Homo sapiens: one gene and its partners. The protein of the gene in region 6 purifies or fractionates together with the protein of the main gene of each other region. This does not show direct contact. Each region holds a gene or a part of one and is shown on either strand. Other genes may lie near its edges.

Region 1 (2,265 bases), on a different chromosome or scaffold from region 6:
TAAAAATGGAGAAACTAATGACATTATTATGACCAAGGTGTTTGGTAAACAGTGAATTCTGAGTTGGGATCATCAGGAAGAGGCTTTTTAAACAACTCTCCGGACTTCAAAAAATCTCTTCAGGTAGTAGATCTGTCCCAATGTCATGGCAACTAGAACAAGAGCTTCAAAGAAGGACCAAAGGACCACTCTGCTGTTTGTGTTGTCGTTGACTGTTGAGGACAAAACAAACAAACAAAATTTAACAATTCTCCCCCAAAAAGACATAGGCATCATAAATATTTTAGTCTTCACTCTGTGTGAAAGTAATATTGTGTACACCACTCATAGAATAGATGTTCCTCAACTTACGATGGGGTTACATCCCAATAAACCCAGCTTATGTTGAAAATACATAAGTCAAAAATATATTTAATACACCTAACCTAGCAAACATCATAGCTTAGCCTAGCCTACGTAAAACACGATCAGAACACTTACATTAGCCTACAGTTGAGCAAAAGCATCTAACAACACAAAGATTATTTTATAATAAAGTGTTGTGTATCTCATACACGTTAAACTGCATTTTATTATTATTTTCTATTTTATTTATCAAGTTAGTGAACACTGCACTGAAAGTAAAAAACAGAATGGTTGCATGGGTACTTGATGCTCAGTTTCTTCTGAATGCACATCACTTTTGCACCATCATAAAGCTGAAAATTTCTAAGTGAAGTCATTGTAACCTATGGGTCACCTATACTCTAAATACTTTTGTCTCCAAGCAACTCAACATACTCCAAAGCAAAGACTTTTTTGTTTGCTCTGTTGCCCAGGCTGGAATGCCATGACACAATCATAGTTCACTGCAACCTTGAACTGTACTCAAGCAATCCTGCCACCTCAGCCTCCTGAGTAGCTGGGAGTACAGGTATGCACCAGCCCATTTGACTAATTTTTTCTGTTTTTGTAGAGAAAGGGTCTTGCTATGTTGCCCAAGTTGGTCTTGAACTCCTGGCCTCAACTGATCCTCCTGCCTCAGCCTCCCAAAGTAGAAGCAAAGATTTTTAAAAGAAACCTTAAAGATTCACTGGGTACAGCCAAGTCCATTCTGCTTGTATATGGGGAGCAGAGAAGAAAATGTGACTTGCCCAAGGTCATAATTCTAGGGTTAAAACCCAATACAACCATCTTTCTCCCTCACCATTGAAACGTCCTGTATTAGTATCCAATTTGCTGAATCAGAAAACTGACTTCTAAAAAAATTAAGGAATTATTTCAAAATCACAGTTATCCAAAATGCAATTATTTACAACATCAAAATATGGCAGTCTGAGTGTCTTTTTCCCCAAATATGTTACAAATATTTGTTGAGCACCTGTGTACTTGTCAATTGTTCTCAATGGAAGAGGTTACTCAGTTATATGGATCCATACTGACAGTTACTACCAGACCATCAAATACAAGACAAACTATGCTCATCTGTCCTGCTCTCAAACTAAGGATTTGATCCTTAAAGTAAAATCCACACCTACTCTATATTTACTATACTCTATTTGTTACATTCAAGTTTCTGATCAAATTCTTTTTATTTACTTACTTTTTTTTGAGTCAGAGTCTCACTGTCACCCAGGCTGGAGGGCAGTGGCGCAATCTCAGCTCACTGCAACCTCTGCCTCCTGGGTTCAAGTGATTCTCCTGTCTCAGACTCCTGAGTAGCTGGGATTACACGTGCACACCCCCATGCCTGGCTAATTTTTGTATTTTTAGTAGAGATAGGGCTTCACCATGTTGGTCAGGCTGGTCTTGAACTCTTAACCTCAGGTGATCTGCCTGCCTCGGCCTCCCAAAGTGCTGGGATTATAGGCATGAGCCACCACGCCTGGCCAAATTCTTTTTATTTTTAAATGTATTTTATTATTATTATTATTTTATTTTTTATGTTTTGAGACAGAGTTTCACTCTTGTTGCCCAGGCTGGAGTGCAATGACGCGATCTCAGCTCACTGCAACCTCCACCTCCTGGGTTCAAGCGATTCTCCTGCCTCAGCCTCCCAAGTAGCTGAGCTTACAGACATGTACCACCATACCTGACTAATTTTGTATTTTTAGTAGAGATGCGGTTTCTCCATGTTAGTCAGGCTGGTCTCGAACTCCCGACCTCAGGTGATCCACCCACCTCGGCCTCCCAAAGTGCTGGGATTATAGGCATGAGCCATCACGCCTGGCCAATTTATTTTATTTTTTTAAAAACGGTCTCGTGTTGCCCAGGTTGGTCTCAAGC
Region 2 (3,500 bases), on a different chromosome or scaffold from region 6:
GTTCTCTGTAACTAGTGACTTCAAGTATTGTTTTATCTGAGAAGTACAATGAATGTCATGAGAAGCCTGAGTAGGCCTGAACTGCAGCTGCCTGGGCACCATAGTGAAGATTATGGGATAAGCCCAGGCAAACCTAGATAACGGACATCTGGGTTGCTTGGCAACGGTCATGTGCAATCCTGAGTTTGTCCTGCCTCTGTATCCCTGCTTTCACGCCACTGTAAGCTTGCTTCAAGCTAGCCCACCCCCTTCTGTGAACTGTGTATAAAAGTCTTTGTTCCGGGCCCAGTCTTTTAGACGTTGAGTCAGCTGGGCCTAAGTGCACTCAATAAAGTTTCTCCTGTTTTAACCCGAGGTCTCTCTTGTCCTCCTGAATCCCACAACATGAGAACGTGAACCTACCAAGTAATTTATAGGAGCCTGTAGCATTGCTTGAACACAAGCACTGTGTCAAGCAATACACCAGAATGCAGAAAATTCTAAGCTAAGTCCTATAATATTTAATATCCAAAAGTAATGTGAATATTTACCAACATTTTCCCAATATTTCATGGCATTCATTGACAAGATTGCTAAATTAAGAGGGTATTTTTTTCACATATTTATATCTGAACCAATCAAACAATATTACTAAAACCTACTGATCAGCACATAAATACAGCATCAGTATGAAGAAAAGACATAACTCATTTACTTTTCCTTTTAAAGGACATCTACCTAGAGCGGAAATAAACATTAAAAAAGCACAAGAGACTACTAAAATATTATACACAATCTTCATACTATAAATCCTCTTTCTACTAATTAAAATTCTTACCTTATTGTGTACTGAGGACAACATGTTTGATTCATGACAGGTTTGTACACATATTTTCCACTTCTAAAATTATAAAAATAGTTTGTTAATGTCTTATATATTTTTCACTTGCACCAAAACAGCCTAGCACAGGAGCATTAAATTAAGGTTAAAAATCTAATCAACATTGTAGAAATGCATGTAGGTTTAATTACTCTTCATAAGCCAAATAATCTTCAAAGTGCGTGTAGCAAAGTTTAGAACCCTGCCTTTTATTTCCTAAAGCTTTACTTGTGTACCCCACGGCCAATCATCTCAGTTCCCCTCTCACCAGCATCTGCCACCCCTGCTCTGCCTTCACCTGCCACCAATCCCCAATACCACAAGGGCAATGAGAGAAATGCCCACGATGCTGTGGGACTCATGTATGTGATGCCTGTGACAACCACACTTGGGTATTCCACATGCACCAGCACGGAGTACCCCAAAACTAACCCGCTTCTTTCCATGCATTCCAGGTCTATGGTACTAACAGAACTGTTCATTCTGTTCTCAAGTCAGAGACCTGGGAGTCATTTTAAACTCCTCCCTGGAATTCACCTCTATATCCTATTAGCAAGCTTTCCTTCATTTTAAACCCTATCCTAAATTGTCCCCTCTTCTCTATCACCATTGCCACTAAGGTGACAGTCCTCATCATCGCACATCTGGATAGCGCAATAACCTTTGAACTCATCTTCCTGCCTCTATGACCCCCCCTCAAATACCTCTCAGCCATCTGAACAATCTTTTCTAAAACAAATTCCTTCACATTTCTCTCTTACCATAAAATCCTTCCATGACTGCCTTCTAAAAAGTTCTGGCCAGGCATGGTGGTTCATACCTATAATCCCAACACTTTGAAAAGCTAAGCTGGAAGAACACTTGCAACCAGATGTTCGAGACCAGCACGGGCAACATAGCCAAGATCTTACAAAAAACTGAAAAATTAGCCAGGTGTTGTGATGCACACCTGTAGTCCTAGCCACTGCAGAGGCTGAGGCAAGAGGATCACTTGAGTGTGGGAATTTGGGGTTACAGTGAGCTATGATGATGGCACTGTACTCTAGCCTGGGCAAGAGAGCGACTCTAGCCTGGGCAACAGAGCGAGACCATGTCTCTAAAAAAAAAAGTTCCTTATCATGGCATGTGAAGTCCTTTAAAATCTGACCTATGTCTACCTTTTGAATCTCATTAAGTTTAAGGAAAGTTGTGATATTTCAGCTGGTGCTCCCAATCCCACGTCTTTGGCAAGTATTAGCGTACAGTATTTAATATTACTTATATTTACACAAGGAACTTTACCTAAGAGTTACTTAAAAATCATCCACATAAAAATAACTACTCAAAACAGGCCATGTGTGGACTTTAAGGAAATCCTTATCCAAATAAACTGTTAAAGAAGACATTTTTGAGACAATCTGGAAAATCTAATAAAAAGTAGGTAACAGGTAACATCAAAGAATTTTTATTAATTTTGTAAGGTGTGATACAGCATTGTGGATAAGTTAAAAAGAAAAAAAGACCTCTCTCTTAGAGATACATACTTATTGCCTATCTATTGATAGGATAAATGTCATAATAACCTACTGATGTAATTTGCTGTTAAATATTAAAAGGTGGAGCAGGAGAATCAAACATGATTGGCAGAACGTTAATAACTGCTGAAGCTTAGTGATAGGTACTTGAGGTTCATTCTAATGTACTCTCTGCTTTTATAGATATTTGACATTTTCCTAACAAAGTTTTTTAAAAAGGAGACAAAAAATCACTACATAAAAGAATATAATAAAAATTTTTCTTAAACCTCTTTCCAACAGGAAAGCATTTCAAAGGCATGCTGTATTTTTCAAGAACCTGAGTAACAGTAGGAAGTCTCTTTGTATCTGGAAGCTTTACCTTCGCCATCCTCGGTCTATGAGATCCTGATAATCCTGTACTGTCATGGAATGTGCCCACATGCCTGAAAAAATAAGTAGTGTGTTAATTACGGCAGGGTAACCTTTTTTCTTTTTTAAATTCAAAGTGTGAGGTTTAAAAATAGGAGTGTGTGTCCGGGCACGGTGGCTCATGCCTGTAATCCCAGCACTCTGGGAGGCCAAGGCGGGCAAATCACAAGGTCAGGAGTTCAAGACCAGCCTGGCCAACATGGTGAAACCCCATCTCTACTAAAAATACAAAAATTTAGCTGGGCATAGTGGCGGGCGCCTGTAATCCCAGCTACTCAAGAGGCTGCAGCAGGAGAATCACATGAACTCGGGAGGCGGAGGTTGCAGTGAGCCAAGATCACGCCACTGCACTCCAGCCCTGGCGACAGAGTGAGACTCCATCTCAAAAAAAAAAAAAAAAATAGGAGTGTTTAGGTTAAAATTCCAAAACACTCATATTGGATAAATGAAAAGTTTGTACATACTTCACAGCTGTTAGTTGGGCATACACACAGCACAAATAAAGAATGACACTATATATATTTTCATTCAAAAAAACACATCGAAGTTAATTATATTTATTTGAGGATTAGTCAATAGTCTCTATGACAGCATAAATTTAAGTCCTCACTGCAATCAGACTGCATCAGACCTTCAAACTTTAATAAATATCCCCAATGATTTAACATGCTGGTCTCTTCAGAAAACTTAGCAAAATGTTTTGTGCTTATTAGTTC
Region 3 (3,500 bases), on a different chromosome or scaffold from region 6:
ATCAGTTCATGCTTTGTGGGAACTGCTTTTCAGATTTCATCTGCTGCTTGCGGCTATGGATTCACACTGCTGTCCTCTAAGACTGCGGATGTTACGAAAGTCTGGGGGATGGGACTCAACAAAGATTCTCAGCTTGGATTTCACAGGAGCCGGAAAGATAAAAGTGAGCATCCCTACCTTGTCTCCTCTTTGCCGGGATTGGTCTGAGAAAGCTCTTTTTTTGTATTTTTTTTGAGACAGAGTCTCAGTCTGTTGCCAGGCTAGAGTGCAGTGGCGAGATCCTGGCTCACTGCAACCTCCACCTCCCGGGTTCAAGTGATTCTCCTGCCTCAGCCTCCCGAGTAGCTGGGATTACAGGCACATGCCACCATGCCTGCCTAATTTTTGCATTTTTAGTAGAGTTGGGGTTTCACTATGTTCACCAGGCTGGTCTCGAACTCCTGAGCTCAGGTGATCCACCCTCCTCAGCCTCCCAAAGTGCTGTGATTACAGGCATGAGGCACAGCGCCCAGCCCTCCCTTTGGTGTTCAAGAACATGGTTACATAAACAAAGAAATAGCAAAGAAATAGAGGAAGACTTAAAGGGATGTTGTTTGAAACCATCTGGGCTAGGTTATTTTTTAGCCTCTTTGGTAACAATGTTGAACCCTCAGGCAAAAGGCAAGCACCTGGCATTTGCAGATAAGTAAAGATGTTCTTTTGTGGCCTAAAAGAGATGACCTTTTTTTCCTGGCTTGGAGACAGACAGCGTGAAGTACTCTGCAGTGCCTAGAATATGTTTTGGAGGGAAAAAGCATTGAAATCGTTAACATGGAGGCTTTATTCCAAATGTTTGAGCCTTGGATTGTAAAAATGTTAGAAATAACTTATAATGGCATTTTAAAAAGTAGACATTAGCCTGGCTGGGCGTGGTGCCTCACGCCTGTAGTCCCAGCACTTTGGGAAGCCGAGGAGGGCAGCCTGTAATCCCAGCACTTTGGGAAGCCGAGGAGGGCAGATCACTTGAGGCCAGGAGTTCGAGACCAGCCTGGCCAACATGGTGAAACCCCGTCTCTACTAAAAATATAAAAAATTAGCCGGGCATGGTGGCACGCACCTGTATAGTCCCAGCTACTTCGGAGGCTGAGGCACAAGAATCTCTTGAACCTGGGAGGTGGAGGTTGCAGTGAGTCGAGATCATGCCACTACACTCCAGCTTGGGTGACAGAGTGAGACTGTCCTAAACAAACAAACAAACAAACAGAAAAGTAGACATTAGCTAAAAATTACTGTGAGAACAGTAAGAAATATTTCCTTGGCCAGGCACAGGGGCTCACGCCTGTAATCCCAGCACTTTGGGAGGCCGAGATGGGAGGGATTGCTTGAGGCCTGGAGTTCCAGACCACGCTGGGCAACATAGCGAGACTCTGTCTCTAAAAAAAAGAAATGAAAAACGAAAAAGAATTAGCTGAGCATGGTGGCATGCACCTATAATCCTAGTTACTCCAGAGGCTGAGGTAGGAGGATTGCTTGAGCCCAGGAGTTTGAGGCTGCAGTGAGCGGTGATTGCGCCACCGCACTCCAGCCTGGGCAACAGAGCAAGATCATGTCTCTTAAAAAAAAGAAAAAAGAAAGAGTTCCTAAAATAGAGAGGAAATGCCAGGCGCAGTGGCTCACGCCTGTAATCCCAGCACTTTGGGAGGCCGAGGCGGGTGGATCACGAGATCAGAAGTTTGAGACCAGCCTGACCAACATGGTGAAACCCCGTCTCTACTAAAAATGCAAAAATTAGCTGGGCATGGAGGCGCGCGCCTGTAATCCCAGCTATTCGGGAGGCTGGGGCAGGAGAATCGCTTGAACTGGGAGGCAGAGGTTGCAGTGAGCCGAGATCGCACCACTGCCCTCCAGCCTGGGCGACAGGGCAAGACTCCGTCTCAAAATAAATAAAAGATAAATAAATAAATAAATATAAAATAACATAGGAAATTACCCAGAAGTACATACTGGACAAACCTTTCATTTTTGTTTTTTCCTGTTCCCTTGTTCACAGACAAATACATTTTTACATACATAGCATATATTTTGTTTTCTGTCTTTTTTCATTTATTTTGTATCAGATATCTTTTTTGTTTGTTTGTTTGAGATGGAGTCTTGCTGTCGCCCAGGCTGGAGTGCAGTGGCATGATCTCAGCTCACTGCAACCTCCACCTCCTGGGTTCAGGTGATTCTGTTGCCTCGGCCTCCTGAGTAGCTGGTACTACAGGCGCCCGCCATCACACCTGGCTAATTTGGGGATTTTAGTAGAGACGGGGGTTTCACCACGTTGGCCAGGTTGGTGTTGAACTCCTGACCTCAAGTGGTCCACCTGCCTTGGCCTCCCAGAGTGCTGGGATTACAGGTGTGAGCCACCATGCCCGACCTATATATCAGATGTCTTTTATAAGTCAGTATAGAAGTCTTTATTAGCTGTAAGATGTTACATTACTTTTTTTTTTTTTTTTTTGAGTCAGAGTTTCACTCTCGTTGCCCAGGCTGGAGTGCAATGGCGTGATCTTGGCTGACCGCAGCCTCCTCCTCCTGGATTTAAGCAATTCGCTTGCCTCAGCTTTCCAGGTAGCTGGGATTTACAGGCATGTGCCACCATGCCTGGCTAATTTTGTATTTTTAGTAGAGATGGGGTTTCTCCACGTTGGTCAGGCTGGTCTCAAGCTCCCGACCTCAGGTGATCCACCTGCCTCGGCCTCCCAAAGTGGTGGGATTACAGGCGTGACCCACCGTGCCCGGCCCGCGTTACATTTTTTATACCTTTTATTCAGAGCAATTTTAGACTTACAGAAGTGTGCAGAGTAGTATGATGTGGCATCACCAGCTTCAGGCATCATCAACTCATGCCAGTCTCGTTTTCTTCATTTTTCCCACCTTCCCCCTCAATAAATTTGAAGCAAATTCCAACAGTTTAATTTTTTGGGGGGGTAAGGGGAGACAGGGTCTTGCCCTGTCACCCATGCTGGAGTGCAGTGTCATGATCACTGCTCACTGCAGCCTTAACCTCCCTGGCCCAAGTGATCCTCCCATCTCAGCCTCCAAAGTAGCTGGAAGTGATCCTCCCACCTCAGCCTCCCAAGTAGCTGGGACCAACAGGCATGCACCATGATGCTTGGCTGATTTTTGTATTTTTGTATTTTTTTTTTAAAACAGTGTCTCGCTCTGTCTCCCAGAAGGCTGGAGTGCAGTGGTGCAATCTTGGCTCACTGGCAACCTCCGCCTCCTGGGTTCAAGCAGTTCTCCTGCCTCAGCCTCCTAAGTAGCTGGGACTACAGGCGTCCACCATCACGTCTGGCTAATTTTGTATTTTTAGTAGAGACGGGGGTTTCACCTTGTTGGCCAGGTGGGTATCAAACTCCTGACCTCAAGTGATCCGCCTGCCTTGGCCTCCCAAAGCGCTGGGATTACAGGCATGAGCCACTGCCCGGCCAAGATTTCTTTAATAAGAAGACGAAGTATGCATTTTTTTTTTTTTT
Region 4 (3,500 bases), on a different chromosome or scaffold from region 6:
GGATTATAGGCATGCACCACCATGCCCGGCTAATTTTTTGTATTTTAGTAGAGATGGGGTTTCACCGTGTTGGCCAGGATTGTCTTGACCTCCTGACCTCATGATCAGCCCACCTCGGCCTCCCAAGTGCTGGGATGACAAGCACGAGCCACCGTGCCCAGCCCAGTTTTTGTATTTTCTTATAAGCCTATGTTAGCTCACATTCAAACTCCAGCCCTCCCCTACTCTGTGTAGCCTTGGGCAAATACCTATCCTGATTTTAGAGATGAGGAAGTGAAGACACAGAGAGAATCATAATAGCAGCTACACCTCAAAGGGTTCAGATCATGAAAAGGCAGCACACAAATGAATACTTAGCAGTGCCCGGCACATACTAAGATGTCTAGTAATTGCATGTCTGTGTGCTTGGGGGCAGAATAACACCAACTTGCATGGAACCCATGCTGTAAGTTCCACAAGAGACCATGCCTATTCATCACTATATCCCCAGCGAGCCAAATACTAGGTAGACAGGCATATTGAACAAAATAGTTGAATTTGGACAAATATTTGAACAAAGAATGAACACACATAATCGAAAAAATAGTCCTCAGGTCTGATTCACAACACAATTCAGCTATATATTTAATTTAAAAGACTTCATGAAATTGTGGGAGGGGTAAGGGGGAAAAAAGAAAGAGAAAGGAAGGACCCCAACAACAGTAAGACTCCTTACCATCTACATCTCATCTGTGTTTCTCTTATTATAACCCATGAAATATCTCTACCTGCAGTGCTTATTACAAATACAAATACCATCCTCACTCATTTTCAACAGCTACCTCACTAATTCTTACACACTTGACAACTTTAGAACTTTGTCCAATTATTATTTGGCCAATGCTTGAAAATGATTTAAAGGCATAACCCCAAGTCTTAGAACAGCTTAGAGCAGGAGTATAAATATTCAGATTCCAAAGACAAGGACTACTACCCACATCAACCTGCCTGTGACACCTCACAACTAAGAAACCAGTTTTTAGTAGATCAAAGATGAAAAGGTGAAACGTACAGCTCACAAATCAAATATCTGGGCACTAGAGGGAATAGGTGTGGTTGGAAAAATAACCCTTCTGGAATTTTCTCAGCATATTTTTAAATGGCAGTAACAACATTTCTTCCACTCCTAAAATTAATTTTAATAGTGAACTGAGGTAACATTTTTTGTCTTAGCAGATAGCTCAATTCCATTGACAACTGACTTGTCATCTTTATTAATTTTTACAAATGCATGTCTCCTAATATGAAAAGGTTGATTTTCACTTTATTGTGTGCTTTGCACATTTACAGCAGCAACAGGAAGAGCTTCTACTGAATAGATTTTAGTCTTCAAAAATGTGACTGCATCTTCCATCTCTAGTTTGTCCATCTCCCAGTTATTGACCTTACCAAAGAAAGAGGAAAATAATCAGTTTGTGAGACGATACTAACAAAAGAGCTAGTTTAGAGATCCAAACATAGTAAAGTAACATGAGGACAATAGCTTTTTGAAAGCAAATGTGACCTTATAACTACTCATATTTTAAAGGCATAATAAGACTACATGCTAGGGTTTAAGAAAGCTTTAACTGTGAAAATTATACAAATTTTAAAGGTCCTCTAAATGGTGCAAAAACTGCTTTCTTGAGAAAATCTTCCTTAGAATATATATAATCAGCAATATAAAAAACAAAGTCTTAAATAGTAGCCCACTAAGAGAAAGGAGTCATCTTAATCTCAATAGTCCACACGTAATCCATTTCCAATACTAAAGTATAATAATAGAAGACTTGGAATGTTTACATCTTACATTATGCGCAGGACCAAATGAGTGGCATTTAGATAGATTCCAACAGCAACATATATATAAATGTATTTGTAAGGTTCCTACTACCTAGAAACATCAGAAGAGGCTGTTCAAGAGAAGCTGTGGGGTACAAAATAAAATTGAAGCATAAGAGGGAAGAGAAAGACCCATCTTCTTAAAACCATCCAGCCTTTTCTGGCAACAAACATCCTGTAACAGCTTCACACAGGCCATGAAAACAAAGCTTTAACATCTTTCCTTCCCTTGTTCAAGATAACCTGGAAATTAAATATGGTTTTGTGTATCTTAAATATGAAAATATATTATTTGCATTCTTCTTCTTAGCAAAAAAGGATTAAAGCTGACCAGAACAACATTTGTAAAAGCTCTAGTAATGACAGTAATCAGCTGAGCAGAACCCAAATCGTGTACTAGCAATGTTCTTTTTCAAAGAAAACAGTAACTAAAGCACTCATTCCAATAATGCTGACAATTCCTCTAGTCCTAGTAACCAGTCTCAACCACAAGATTCCTGGCAGCTGTTAGAATGTACATCAGTAATTAAAGAATATTTCATTTGCATTTTTTTCTCACCAAGATCACATGAAAACCCATTGCATTCAAATGCCGCATTTTCATAGCAAGGAATCCTCTGGGGTGGCTTGAACCCAAACAATAAGCAGATCTGGAAACACATAGCACAGCTACTCTGAAAACAAAAATAAACAAAACAAGAACAGTTATTGATATTACTATTTAGTCTTGCTGCATTCTTGTTCTCTGGAGATTTCCAAGTTGAGCTCTCCACCGACCACAATCCTTGATATTCCTGTCTTAGTCCTTCACTTCTTTTACTTGGCCTCTGCAGATATTCCACTATACAAGGCTACTTTATAAATCAAAAATATACAACATTATACACAGTTACCTCTCAGTTCCCTTTAAGGATGGCTACATTTTTGAAGAGGAAAATTTTCAGACATGAAAGCACCAATTTTAAGGGTTTTCTGTGTAGTGCTGATTTCTGATCTGAGTATAATTATTTATTCTACCAGTAGTAGTAACGGTGTAAATAATACCAAATAGTAAATGCTCTTCTTACACATATCATCTCCCAGAGAAAGCAGCATTTAAAAAACAGAAATAGGAGTTTAAATACAAGAAAGAAAACACCAAGAGAAAGGCAAGACTGTTAAAATAAAATCTGTAAATATAACGAAAATGTGGAAGGTGTAATTTGTTTTTTCATTGTTCCTGGCACTTTGGAAATACTAAGTTTACTGGGAGAAAAAAAGAAAAAAAAAAGACATTTATATCCTTACTGCCTTCACCTATACTCTGGCTGTTATAAGACAAATTTTATGTTTTTAAAGGAATGCTCACATTCTTCACTTCTCATGACTTTATGCTGAGAACAACTGTTATTTTATTATGCCAGAATAGCGGAGTACCCGAAAAAGAAAACTGATCTTGGAATGAGGTCAGAGAGAAAGCCTCTTCTGAGGGGAGATGGGTAGCACTAATAGGAAAGACAGCGGTTGAAAAGATGGCCAAGAAATAAGCTAGATGCATTCAGAAAGAGGTGAAAGTCACAGAACTGTGTGTGAATGAAGAGGGATGGGCAGATAAGAGCTTGGATCCCTACAGATTTTTTTGTATGTTTCTATCATATTTA
Region 5 (3,500 bases), on a different chromosome or scaffold from region 6:
GATCTGCATTTCAGAAAGAGCACTAACACTGGAAAGATATCAGAGCCAATACTGCTGAGGAGAAGACTATCAAGATAGGAGGCTCCTGCAGCCACTCAGTGACAAATGAGGACCTAAACAAGGTAGTGACTGTAGGATGAGAGAAGTGGATGGATTTGAAAGAAATAGAGAGGGTAGAATCCATAGGATAAGCTATTAAATTAGATGTAAAGAGGAAGGGGACAAAAGCAATAAGAATCAAGGATAGGCCGAGTGCGGTGGCTCATGCCTATAATCTCAGTACTTTGGGAGGCCGAGGTGGACAGATCCCTTGAGGCCAAGAGTTCAAGATCAGCCTGGCCAACAGGGTGAAACCTCGTCTCTACTAAAAATACAAAAAATAGCCAGGCATGGTGGCACGTGCTTGTAATCTCAGCTACCAGGGAGGCTGAGGCAGGAGAATCACTTGAACCTGGGAGGCAGGTTGCAGTGAGCTGAGATGGTACCACTGTACTCCAGCCTGGGAGACAGAGTGAGACCCAGTCTGAAGAAAAAAAAAAAAAAAAAAATCAAGGATGACCCCCAAAGTTTCTAACAGAGCACAGATTTTTCTCTTTTTCCTCTCCTGTTAAAAATCACCTCCCAAAAATATGGGGAATGACAAACAAAAAATGAGATCCTTCTTTGAGGAAACGAGATTATATCCCCACATATCTGAAAACATCTGAAAACAGATGAAAGCATGGCAACAGCCTTATCGGAGAGGAGAAAGACGACACTGAAATGCCTGCAAATGAGAATCTGGCAAGTGGTAAGTGATCAGTACCACAAAAAACTCAAAAGTCTCCAAAATTGGAGTCCCTAGAAATCTGAGAGATTAGAGGTGAGGTACAGACTAAAAACTGGGGTATTGGGTATGGAGAGACCCGACCTCCCCCAAATCCAGTTCCTCTCAATGCACTAGGAGAAAGGAGATTCATTATCTGGGAAAATCAAGTATGAGAAGTACCAAACCCAGAGAAATGAGGAAAGCAAAAGTTTGTAATAAAATGCCAGACTAAAAATAAGATGACTAAATGAAAGTTTGGACGGAGATCCCCTGGCTCCCTTAAGCTATCCAGATCCAAGTGCAACCTAATGGTCAACAAGTGAAGGCAGCTATAGAGTAGGCCTAGAAACCATTCAAATCAGGAGGACAGTGGCTTCAGGAAGGAGGTCGGGGTAGTGTGACAAGCAGGGAACAATCCACTCTGGAGAAATGAAATACATCATCTGATAGGGTTACCTGGGAAAAACTGTCCTGAGAGGCTACTGGAAGGTATGGAAAAGTTTAACCCCAGAAACAAACAAACAAACAAAACAATTCATCAAATGAAGAACAAGGCAACTATTACTGCCGGAAAAATGAAAAGTTGTACAGGAAGGTAAATAATGATAGCATACTTCTTGTTAGGGCAGATAGCAATATTTATAGTCATAATTTAACTACTGACTAATGATTTATCTAAAATTGTAATTTATATTAGGAGAATTGAAAAGAATACAGGAAAAGTACATGTGTACATACAAGAGATCAAATGATGTCTAAAACTGATGAACCAAACAACAGCACTACAAACAACTATTTTAAAATGAGGAGGTTGAACACAAACAGAAAGAATGATACAAGTTAAGTAGATGCATCTGGGGAATAGGATGCAAGATCACCAAGGATGAGGCAGGGAATACGGTTTCTCACTAGAAGCCTTTATGCTATTAGACTTTTGCTTATGTTTGTATACTACTTAGTATAGATTAAATTGTTAATTTAAAAAAGTAAAAAAAGTAATGAAGAGTACATGCAAAAAGTACTTGTAGTTTAGTCAAACTTACCTAGAAGAACCAACTTCTGCAGAGTCTCAGAATGATCCACATAGTCTCGAAGTGTGAATGAAGCTGGTGGCAATGGAGGGTCTGCAATAATCTGAATAGCCTCTTCCTCTGAAATTGGCTGCATTGGAGACAATGGAGGCAATTCATCCAGTTCTTTGAAAGAGAGAAACAAATTAGTGCTCTAATATGCACACTTAAAACTATTTCTGCAAAGACCAGCTCTTCCCTTGTTTGCTTCTTTCAGTGGTTAAATCTTGGGATCATTTTAGAATTAAACATCCAAGTCCCTAATTTTTCACCTTTTAAGAGGTAAGGTTACAACTATTTAGACAGACTAACTACTGTTCCTCTGAGATTAGAAATTTGTTGGTAAATTTCAAAGCACACAATGCCTTTCCTTCACTTAATCAGTAGGTGAGAATGCTAAAAATCACCTAACTTTCAAGTGAATTTTGAAACAGAGATTGAGTTTACCATAGCCTGTTAACTTGGCTAAAAGTACACATATGCCAACAGTCTGAATTGCATGGATTAAAGTAATCATATCCCGAAAGTCTTTGTTTTGACCCAATGCCCTCCCTTCCAAGTTACCCTCAAATACATCTTTAAAAGGGCTTCTATGATTGTTTCTACAACCTGCAGTCCTCTCTACAGGAGATGTGACTCTCTAGTACAGCCCTGATTCTGAAGTTGTTTTTGTTTTTTTAAAATCAAACGCAGCATGGAAGACACTTAGAACTACACATTACCTTAAGCTAAGGAATCAGGTCTGTGATCTTTTGTTCTGTTTTGTGCTTCTCATCATTAACTATCCTTTCTCATCATTTATAGCCAGCATCTCCTCCCTGCCCTCTCCCCAGCTCTCTTTCCTTCATATTCTACTTAACCTTATATCATTTCATTACCAGCGAAATATTCCTAGAATAGGACCCATAGGAAGGAGAGGATTGACTAAAAAGCGACCATGAGGGAACTCTGTGGAGTTAATATAATTGTTTTATTTGTTGATTGCAGTAGTTCTTACACACTAAATGCATATGTCAAAATTCATAGAACTATATATCCCACAAGATGAATTTTACTTGATATAATTATACCCTAATAAAACTAATTACCACTAGAAGAATTTTGTTTTAAGAATCTAAACAATAAAATATTTAAAAAGCAAATGTTTTATATGTGTAGCTATAAAATAATCTTACACGTTAGCCCACAAACTTTTTTTCTTACCAGTAAAATAAAGGCATGATAGAAGTTCATCAATAGAACTGGTATTATTCTTTTTCTTTCTTGGCACAAAATATTACCTGAAATGGGCTAGCAGAAGGTAAACAGGTAGCTTGTTCAAATGGCCAAAGTAGGGAAAGGGAGACTTTTCTGAAAGTTCAGAATTACCTTCTAGAAACAGCTCAGAATCAAAGCTGGATATATTTTGTGTCTTCTGTGACTGTTCATTCATGGAAGGAAGCAGACTGCTTTGGGCAGAATTATTCTCCTGACTACTTGAGCTAGTAGACTGGGAACTATTCCATAAGGAGGAAGTCCTGTAAGTCTTAAATCCCCACTGGAGAAAGCAATTGTCAGAGGATATCTGAGGCTGAGCAGAAAAGCCATGTAACAGTGTTCTTGCTGGTCTAGTAAAACGTTTT
Region 6 (3,500 bases):
TAACGCTGCTATGAATATGTGTGCAAATATTTGATTTTTGGGGTATATACCCAGAAGTGGAACTGCTGGATCTTACAATAATTCTGTTTAATCGTTTTGAGGAACCACTCTACACAGTTTTAAATAGAGGCATTCAACCTGTTTGTATTCTTCTGCTAGCCACAACCATCTCTCTGGGAGTCCCCGGCCTCAGATCAGCACCAGAAGCACATTCTCACACAAGTCAGCCACACTACTAGCTGCTCAGAACGAGGCCCTGGACAAAACCTGGTGGCACAGGGTTTTGTGATCCCACTGCGGAAAAGTGACACTCTCACCAGTGATGGGCTGGAGCTCCACGAGGGCGGAGGAGAGAGTGCTGCTGAGCACCTGGTACTGAGTTACAGCAACTTGCGCATTCCGGCTGCGCCGCACTTTCACCATTTTCCCATCGTCCATGCGGTAGCTCGGGGACAATGTCATCTGAAGCCAAAGAAATCAAGATATGATTCCCAAGGAAGAGCAGCAACCCATGCCTCAGGGAGGCTGCTCGCTCACCTTGTGGTGTTGCTGCTGGCCTTGCGCCTCCTTCTCCACAATGGGGATGTCCACGACTCCTGCTGAGGGCATGGGGACATGCACAGTGATGGCCCTGGGGGTGACACAGATCACTGCTTTAGCCAACCAAGCCAGAGAAGAACTCCTAGATTTGGCCACTTAGAGGATTTCACGCTGGACCTTCTGCACTAACATGTGATTTCTTATGATTGAAGGATCGTGCAAGATTCTCTTGGTGTAATGCTTAGCCTGAGAGCTGATAGATTTCACAAGCTTATCTTTTTTACTACTAAAGTCATACATGCTAATTGTAGAATATTTGGGGTAAAAAAAGAAAAAAATTACATTAATAACATGGTCTTTCCAGTCTTTAAAAATGGATATGTACAGTTAAAATAAAATTATGGTAATATAGTTTTGTATTTTTTTTCAAATAATAAAAGATTGTAGATTCTGACTGCATGGTAAATGAACAAATGAATAATTGGATGAATGAACCTAATAAAACATTCAGAGAACCGTTCCTGGCTCATTTGCCACATAGGTAAAACAGGAGGGAACTGTACCCGAAGAAGTCACAGGGGACAGGCGTGGTGGCTCACACATGTAATCCCAATACTTTGGGAGGCCAAGGCGGGTGGATCACTTCAGGTCAGGAGTTCAAGACCAGCCTGGCCAACATGGTGAAACCCCATCTCTACTAAAAATACAAAAAAAAAATCAGCCAGGCGTGGTGGCGCGTGCCTGTAATTCCAGCTACTTGGGAGGCTGAGGCATGAGAATCGCTTGAATCCAGGAGGTGGAGGTTGCAGTGGGCCAAGATTATGCCACTGCACTCCAGCCTGGGAGACACAGCAAGACTCCGTCTAAAAAAAGAAAGAAAGAAGTCATAGGTACCACAACCACAACTCAATAACTCATTCCAAATCACTTCTGTTGGTGTTCTCCCTCCCATGACCTCATGACCTCACAGACAGGTAGAAGACTGTTTAATCTGTCTGTAAATTTATGCCTCTTTCAGGTCAATGATGGAAAAGTCCATCTGGGTACCTGGTGGTCGGTTGTATAATCACTAACCACGGGGTCAAAATCCTACTCACACACACTATTTCACAACGCAGACACTCCACTTCAGTTTCAGCTACTATCTGGTACATTTTATCGTATTTTACAGATTTTGTAGATCTTCTGTGACAAGAATGTCCTTCCTAATGATATGACACTACAACTCAAGAATGTTCCATCAGCAAGACCCAACTGATTGATTTCAATTCCTCCATGAACCTGATACCGAGAATGGTTACCAATTTTGAACCTTAATGGACATTTTTCACAAATAACATAACATGTATTTTATAGTCTTAATATTTTGATTGCTTGAATAGAAAAATAAGTCTCTATTTTTTATTTTTTAACTTTTCCTATGAACTAGGTACTGTGTTAAACATTTCACAAGAATCAATCTTATTTAACTATCTCATAAATCCTACTGTTTCCATTTTTCAGATGAAGAAAACAAAGCTTATGGACATTTAATAACCTGCCCAAGGCCCCACAGCTGTTAAATGACACAGTTGAGAGTTGAACACACATCTTTTTGAGGTCTTAGCTACTGTCCTAAATTCCTCCATTCTCCATAATCTTATCATAGTTCTTAAATTTGATTGTATATCAAATTTTAAAATACAGATGCCAATCCCCACAACCACCACACTTACGAATGAGAACTTCTGTGGGTAAGTCTCAATCATACATATTTTTAAAGGGCTCCTCAGATTCACAAAGTATCTGCAAAATCTGTAATCTAAAAAGGACTAACATTCAAAATATAAAATGAATACTTACAAATCAAATAGAAAAGAATAAACAACCTGGGCCAGACACAGTGGCTCACGCCTGTGAGCTGTAAGCGCTGTAATCCTAGCACTTTGATGGACAGATCACTTTAGGTCAGGGGTTCAAGACCAGCCTGGCCAACAGGCTGAAACCCCATCTCTACTAAAAATACAAAAATTAGCTGGGCATGGTGGCATGTGCCTGTAATTCCAGCTAGCTGAAACATGAGAACCACTTGAACCAGGGAGGAGGTTGCAGTGAGCCAAGATTGTGCCACTGCCCTCCAGCCTGGGTGACACAGCAAGACTCCATCTCAAAAAAAAAAGGCCAGGCACGGTCTTAAATAAAAAAAAATAATAATAATAAACAACCCTGTAGAAAAATAGGCAAAAGAAATAATCAGTCTGTTCCCAAAAGGGAAACTCAAATAGCCAATAAACATGTAAAAAACATGTAAATTGATAGCCAATATCACTGTTATACAAGGAAATAGAAAATATCTTTTTTTTTTTTAACTTATCACAGTGGCAAACCCTTTAAAAATGCTTTGGCTGATAAGGGGAGGTGGGTACTCACCACTGCTGGTGGGAATGTAAACTGATAAAAAACCTTTGTGGAGAGCAATGTGAGTACTATTAAAATTTAAATATACAAACCATTCAGCCCAGCGATTCAATTTTTAGAAATTTATCTTAAAAATACATTCACATATTCTTTGCAATAGGCTCTAAAAAATGAGAAATTACCTAAATATCCATCCATACAGCGGTATTTCACAGAGCAATTAAAAAGGAGACAGCTCTAAACGTATGACACAAAATGCTCTAAGATATATGATCCAAGTGAAAACTGTAGGGTACAAAACTCTGTGTGAAATACACTAGCATACAGTAATATGCTTATATATGCTCGATAACTCTGGAAGTTTACAGAAGACACCAGTCACAGCGATTGACGCTGGGGAAGGCAACTGCACAGATGGGGAATAGAGGGTTTCTTTTTTGCTCACGCATCTTTTTTCTATGAAAAACACTGAGGTAAACCTCTATGTGCTAACACAGGATGATCCCCAAGACATAGAGGTGAGCAGAGGAAAAAAGTATAATGTAAATTGTACAATGTGATAT
Region 7 (3,500 bases), on a different chromosome or scaffold from region 6:
ACAAAAAGATACAGTAAGGTAAGAGATACACGATAGATTAATAAAACATTAAAAAGCTGTAAATTTTAGCCTTATGCTTTAGCTTCCAAAAACTAAGTAGAACTCTTGGCCACCTAATTCCTGCCCCCCACTTTAGCATACACATCTGTTCTTCTTTCCTGCTATACTTTTCAATTAGTCACTTCTATTCTTATTGTAATTTTACTAACAGGCAAATAAATGATTAGGAAGACTGAATGCATATGTGAATGTGATAACCTCCCTTTGCTCTGGGTCAGTGGGTCATTTTCCACCTATCTCTTCTCTAAGAATGCTGTTTCTATACTAGCAAATAACATTTGTGAAAATATTTATATAACGTATGAGAACGAACTTTTTTTTTTTTTTTGAGATGGGAGTCTCACTCTGTTGCCCAGACTAGAGGGCAGTGGCGCGATCTTGGCTCACTGCAACCTCTGCCTCTCAGGTTCAAGTGATTTTCCTGCCTCAGCCTCCTGAGTAGCTGGGACTACAGGCACCTGCCACCATGCCTGGCTAATTTTTGTATTTGTAGTAGAGACGGGGTTTCACCGTGTTGGCCAGGCTGGTCTCGAGCTCCTGACTTCAAATGATCCACCCACCTCAGCCTCCCAAAGTGCTGGGATTACAGGCGTGAGCCAACCCGCAGGGCCAAGAACAAACTTTTGACAAAGAAATAAATCATAACATTTAATTTTTGATTCATAATTATCCCTGTTTCTATTAATTCATTTATAAAAACTGCCTATTTCTATTTATTGATATCTAATTTATAAATAATTACCTTCACAAATTCCATAGCAAAGAGTTTTTTGTATTCCATCTCCATAAAAAAACTGCTGAAGATCAATTCATGAAGGATCTTACGGGCACCTATAGATTATTTTGGGGAGGGTGGGGGAATGAGGAGAATCACCAAGGCAAAAACCAAAAACATTCTGGCTATTAGAGTGGCAGAATATTATAAAATTACTTCACATGCAAACAGACCTCAAATAGTATTTATTGTATTAATATTTAATAACTGGAATTTAAAATACACACATATATTGCCTTTTCCCTCTTTTTCTGCACCCCTCCCACCACTTCATCTTACACTTCAATTTACTCTCTCCCAACCTTTTCATTCTTTTTCTATTTCACTGTACTTTTCCTTCTCCATGCTTTTAGCCTTTTACGTTTTGTTCTTCATTTAGATTTTTACAATGAAAATAGCATCTTTTTCGCTACTCGATAATGGCACTACTACCTGAATATATAGATACATGTATAGACACATACATATATACTCTTTTTGACTGGCTCTCACTAAATGAAAAGACTCTATAATTAAAAGACAACATCCCTGGGTTTTAACACCAAAGAATACATACTGACTGGTTAAACTTTATATTCACATGTAGTATCTTATCAATCAAGATTACAGATTTAATAACTAATTTAATAAACAAAAGATATTACAGCTCCACTTTAAGGTCATAATCTTCCTTTGCTTCCTGACAAACAGCATAAGCAAATGTCTACTTACCTTTATAAAGCTTTGCATCCCAAAGCATTAACCTGCTTATGAGACAGGGATTCTCCGAGTCAGGTTCTTCTCTAAGGCATGCTTGGCAAAAGATCTGCCTAAAGTCACCTACAAACAAAAGAGGTCACACAGTTACACAACTTGTATTCTTTTTCTTTTTAAATAGAGATGAGTCTCACTCTGTTGCCCAGGTTGGTCTTGAACTCCTGGGCTCAAGCGATCCTTCCACCTCAGCCTCTCACAGTGCTGGCATTACAGACATGAGCCCCTGTACTCAGCCATAATTTTTATTCTTATAACATTTCTCCTAAAAGTACATTTCCTATAACATGTGAAAAGAATAATATTAATCCTCCCACATTTGAGGCAAAGAATAATTCTGTCAACATCAAAGACTCAACAGCCAATAAAAAGATATTATTTGATACTATGCACTTGAAATAATATCCTAAGATATTATACATTTGAAATGCAACCCTGAAAATTAATCAAAGTGTATAAACCAAAAAAAAAAAAAAAAGAAAAACTTTATTTCATACTCAATGACATTTTAAAATTTGTGGCTATAAAACACATAGTATTTTATCAGAAACAAGAAAAACAGGAGGTATGCTTACTTGAATAGCTCATAATTTTGTTCATCCAGGAACCAAGACGCAAAGCAAATTTCTGATGAGCCATAATCTCTGAGTGTAATACTTCTACATGAAGTGGATGTTGAGAGACATTTTCTGAATGACTCTACAAATGAAGGGAACGAACCAAAAAAATAGCATTTAAAATTTGCTTTTAGTTAAGGGATTTATACTTCAAATGAAGAAATCACATAACCCTGCCAGTTCCAAATCTCTGCATCTAGGTGCCCCAAACCACTTCAACGACATCATCACTCAAATTATTCTACTTGGGCTCTTGTAATGTACATTCATCTTTAACTTCTCTTTTTCCCCCTAATTCAGAAAGTTACCTTTATATCTTCCTTTGCTTCCTGGCAAGCAGCATAAGCTCCCGCTTTAACAGCCCGACGACCCTAATTATAGACAAAAGTGAGAATTAGGTAGTGAAATGATAACCACAATCAATAAGCAATATGTAGCCCAAAGACTTAATGAGCTCTTAACTGAGCTCTAATCGCGTGTTGACTAAAAGTTGTAAGATACCGGAACAATATCTGAAAGACAGATGCAAATGTTTAACACCTTTATGAAGTATGAAAACTTTAATACCTCTAGGACAGACAGTCTATAGTTTAAGATGCTGAGTTTCTTGCCTGGCAGGAATGGCAGTTCTTTAGTTACTGCAGTGTCCTCTCTACTTATATGAAACAATGACTCAGGCTTTCTAAACTTCTGCTATGTATTTAAAATATTTTTCATGAATGAATTCACAGCTCTTCAACATGTATCCTATGATATACTTGTGGCCCATTAACGAGCGGGAAGTATAGCTGGACTACTGATTCCACCAGTCCTGGAGGCGGTCATGCAAGGTCTATGTAGGATTTCCTTGTAGCTCATTCTTTTACCCACCTGTAAAAATTCATCATTTTCTATATGTGCCATGTGAAAAAAGTCAGGAAGCACTGTCTTCCTCATTTAACCTTTACAATGACCCTATGAAGAAGGTATACCACATTTTACAGATGATAAAAAGAAAAATAAGACAGAAGTTAATTTGTCCCCCAATCAGAAAGTTAGCAAGTGACAGATTCAGAGATCCATGACAAGCATTTCATCTCCAGAGTCTGTACTTTTAACCATCCTGTAATATTCCCTCTTTAGCTGCTTAGTACATAAGCATAAGAACTATCCAAATATATTTGGACTACTAATTACACCAGTAAGGTTGCCATTACAGAAAAAAAAAAAAAAAGCACAAAAAGCCAGGCCATAAGAGATTGTTAAAAGAACAGATTGGACAAGAATAGTTACATAAACTCGAGCTCAATCAGCTT

The links.
Region 1: the proteins of RPUSD4 (region 6) and TMED2 purify together in Homo sapiens (co-immunoprecipitation; one large-scale study listed by IntAct). This does not show direct contact.
Region 2: the proteins of RPUSD4 (region 6) and ATE1 purify together in Homo sapiens (affinity purification with mass spectrometry; one large-scale study listed by BioGRID and IntAct). This does not show direct contact.
Region 3: the proteins of RPUSD4 (region 6) and RCC1L purify together in Homo sapiens (affinity purification with mass spectrometry; 2 studies listed by BioGRID and IntAct, with this or other methods). This does not show direct contact.
Region 4: the proteins of RPUSD4 (region 6) and FASTKD2 purify together in Homo sapiens (affinity purification with mass spectrometry; 2 studies listed by BioGRID and IntAct, with this or other methods). This does not show direct contact.
Region 5: the proteins of RPUSD4 (region 6) and MTERF3 purify together in Homo sapiens (affinity purification with mass spectrometry; one large-scale study listed by BioGRID and IntAct). This does not show direct contact.
Region 7: the proteins of RPUSD4 (region 6) and UBR1 purify together in Homo sapiens (affinity purification with mass spectrometry; one large-scale study listed by BioGRID and IntAct). This does not show direct contact.

What each region holds. Positions count from the first base shown.
Region 1 is NC_000012.12:123,594,552-123,596,816, reverse strand, and holds part of TMED2 (transmembrane emp24 domain-containing protein 2 isoform 1 precursor), read right to left. Parts: intron 213-2,265; coding exon 88-212; 3' UTR 1-87. UniProt on the Homo sapiens protein: Involved in vesicular protein trafficking. Mainly functions in the early secretory pathway but also in post-Golgi membranes.
Region 2 is NC_000010.11:121,921,532-121,925,031, forward strand, and holds part of ATE1 (arginyl-tRNA--protein transferase 1), read right to left. Parts: intron 2,799-3,500; coding exon 2,735-2,798; intron 881-2,734; coding exon 818-880; intron 1-817. UniProt on the Homo sapiens protein: Involved in the post-translational conjugation of arginine to the N-terminal aspartate or glutamate of a protein. This arginylation is required for degradation of the protein via the ubiquitin pathway. Does not arginylate cysteine residues.
Region 3 is NC_000007.14:75,067,303-75,070,802, reverse strand, and holds part of RCC1L (RCC1-like G exchanging factor-like protein), read left to right. Parts: intron 1-33; coding exon 34-163; intron 164-3,500. UniProt on the Homo sapiens protein: Guanine nucleotide exchange factor (GEF) for mitochondrial dynamin-related GTPase OPA1. Activates OPA1, by exchanging bound GDP for free GTP, and drives OPA1 and MFN1-dependent mitochondrial fusion. Plays an essential role in mitochondrial ribosome biogenesis.
Region 4 is NC_000002.12:206,789,606-206,793,105, reverse strand, and holds part of FASTKD2 (FAST kinase domain-containing protein 2, mitochondrial), read right to left. Parts: intron 2,535-3,500; coding exon 2,420-2,534; intron 1,424-2,419; coding exon 1,304-1,423; 3' UTR 1-1,303. UniProt on the Homo sapiens protein: Plays an important role in assembly of the mitochondrial large ribosomal subunit.
Region 5 is NC_000008.11:96,255,111-96,258,610, forward strand, and holds part of MTERF3 (transcription termination factor 3, mitochondrial isoform 1 precursor), read right to left. Parts: coding exon 3,247-3,500; exon of another isoform or gene 3,112-3,246; coding exon of another isoform or gene 3,082-3,111; intron 2,005-3,081; coding exon 1,852-2,004; intron 1-1,851.
Region 6 is NC_000011.10:126,205,151-126,208,650, forward strand, and holds part of RPUSD4 (pseudouridylate synthase RPUSD4, mitochondrial), read right to left. Parts: intron 632-3,500; coding exon 538-631; intron 463-537; coding exon 318-462; intron 1-317. UniProt on the Homo sapiens protein: Catalyzes uridine to pseudouridine isomerization (pseudouridylation) of different mitochondrial RNA substrates. Acts on position 1397 in 16S mitochondrial ribosomal RNA (16S mt-rRNA).
Region 7 is NC_000015.10:43,057,539-43,061,038, forward strand, and holds part of UBR1 (E3 ubiquitin-protein ligase UBR1), read right to left. Parts: intron 2,577-3,500; coding exon 2,514-2,576; intron 2,288-2,513; coding exon 2,164-2,287; intron 1,655-2,163; coding exon 1,547-1,654; intron 892-1,546; coding exon 803-891; intron 1-802. UniProt on the Homo sapiens protein: E3 ubiquitin-protein ligase which is a component of the N-end rule pathway. Recognizes and binds proteins bearing specific N-terminal residues that are destabilizing according to the N-end rule, leading to their ubiquitination and subsequent degradation.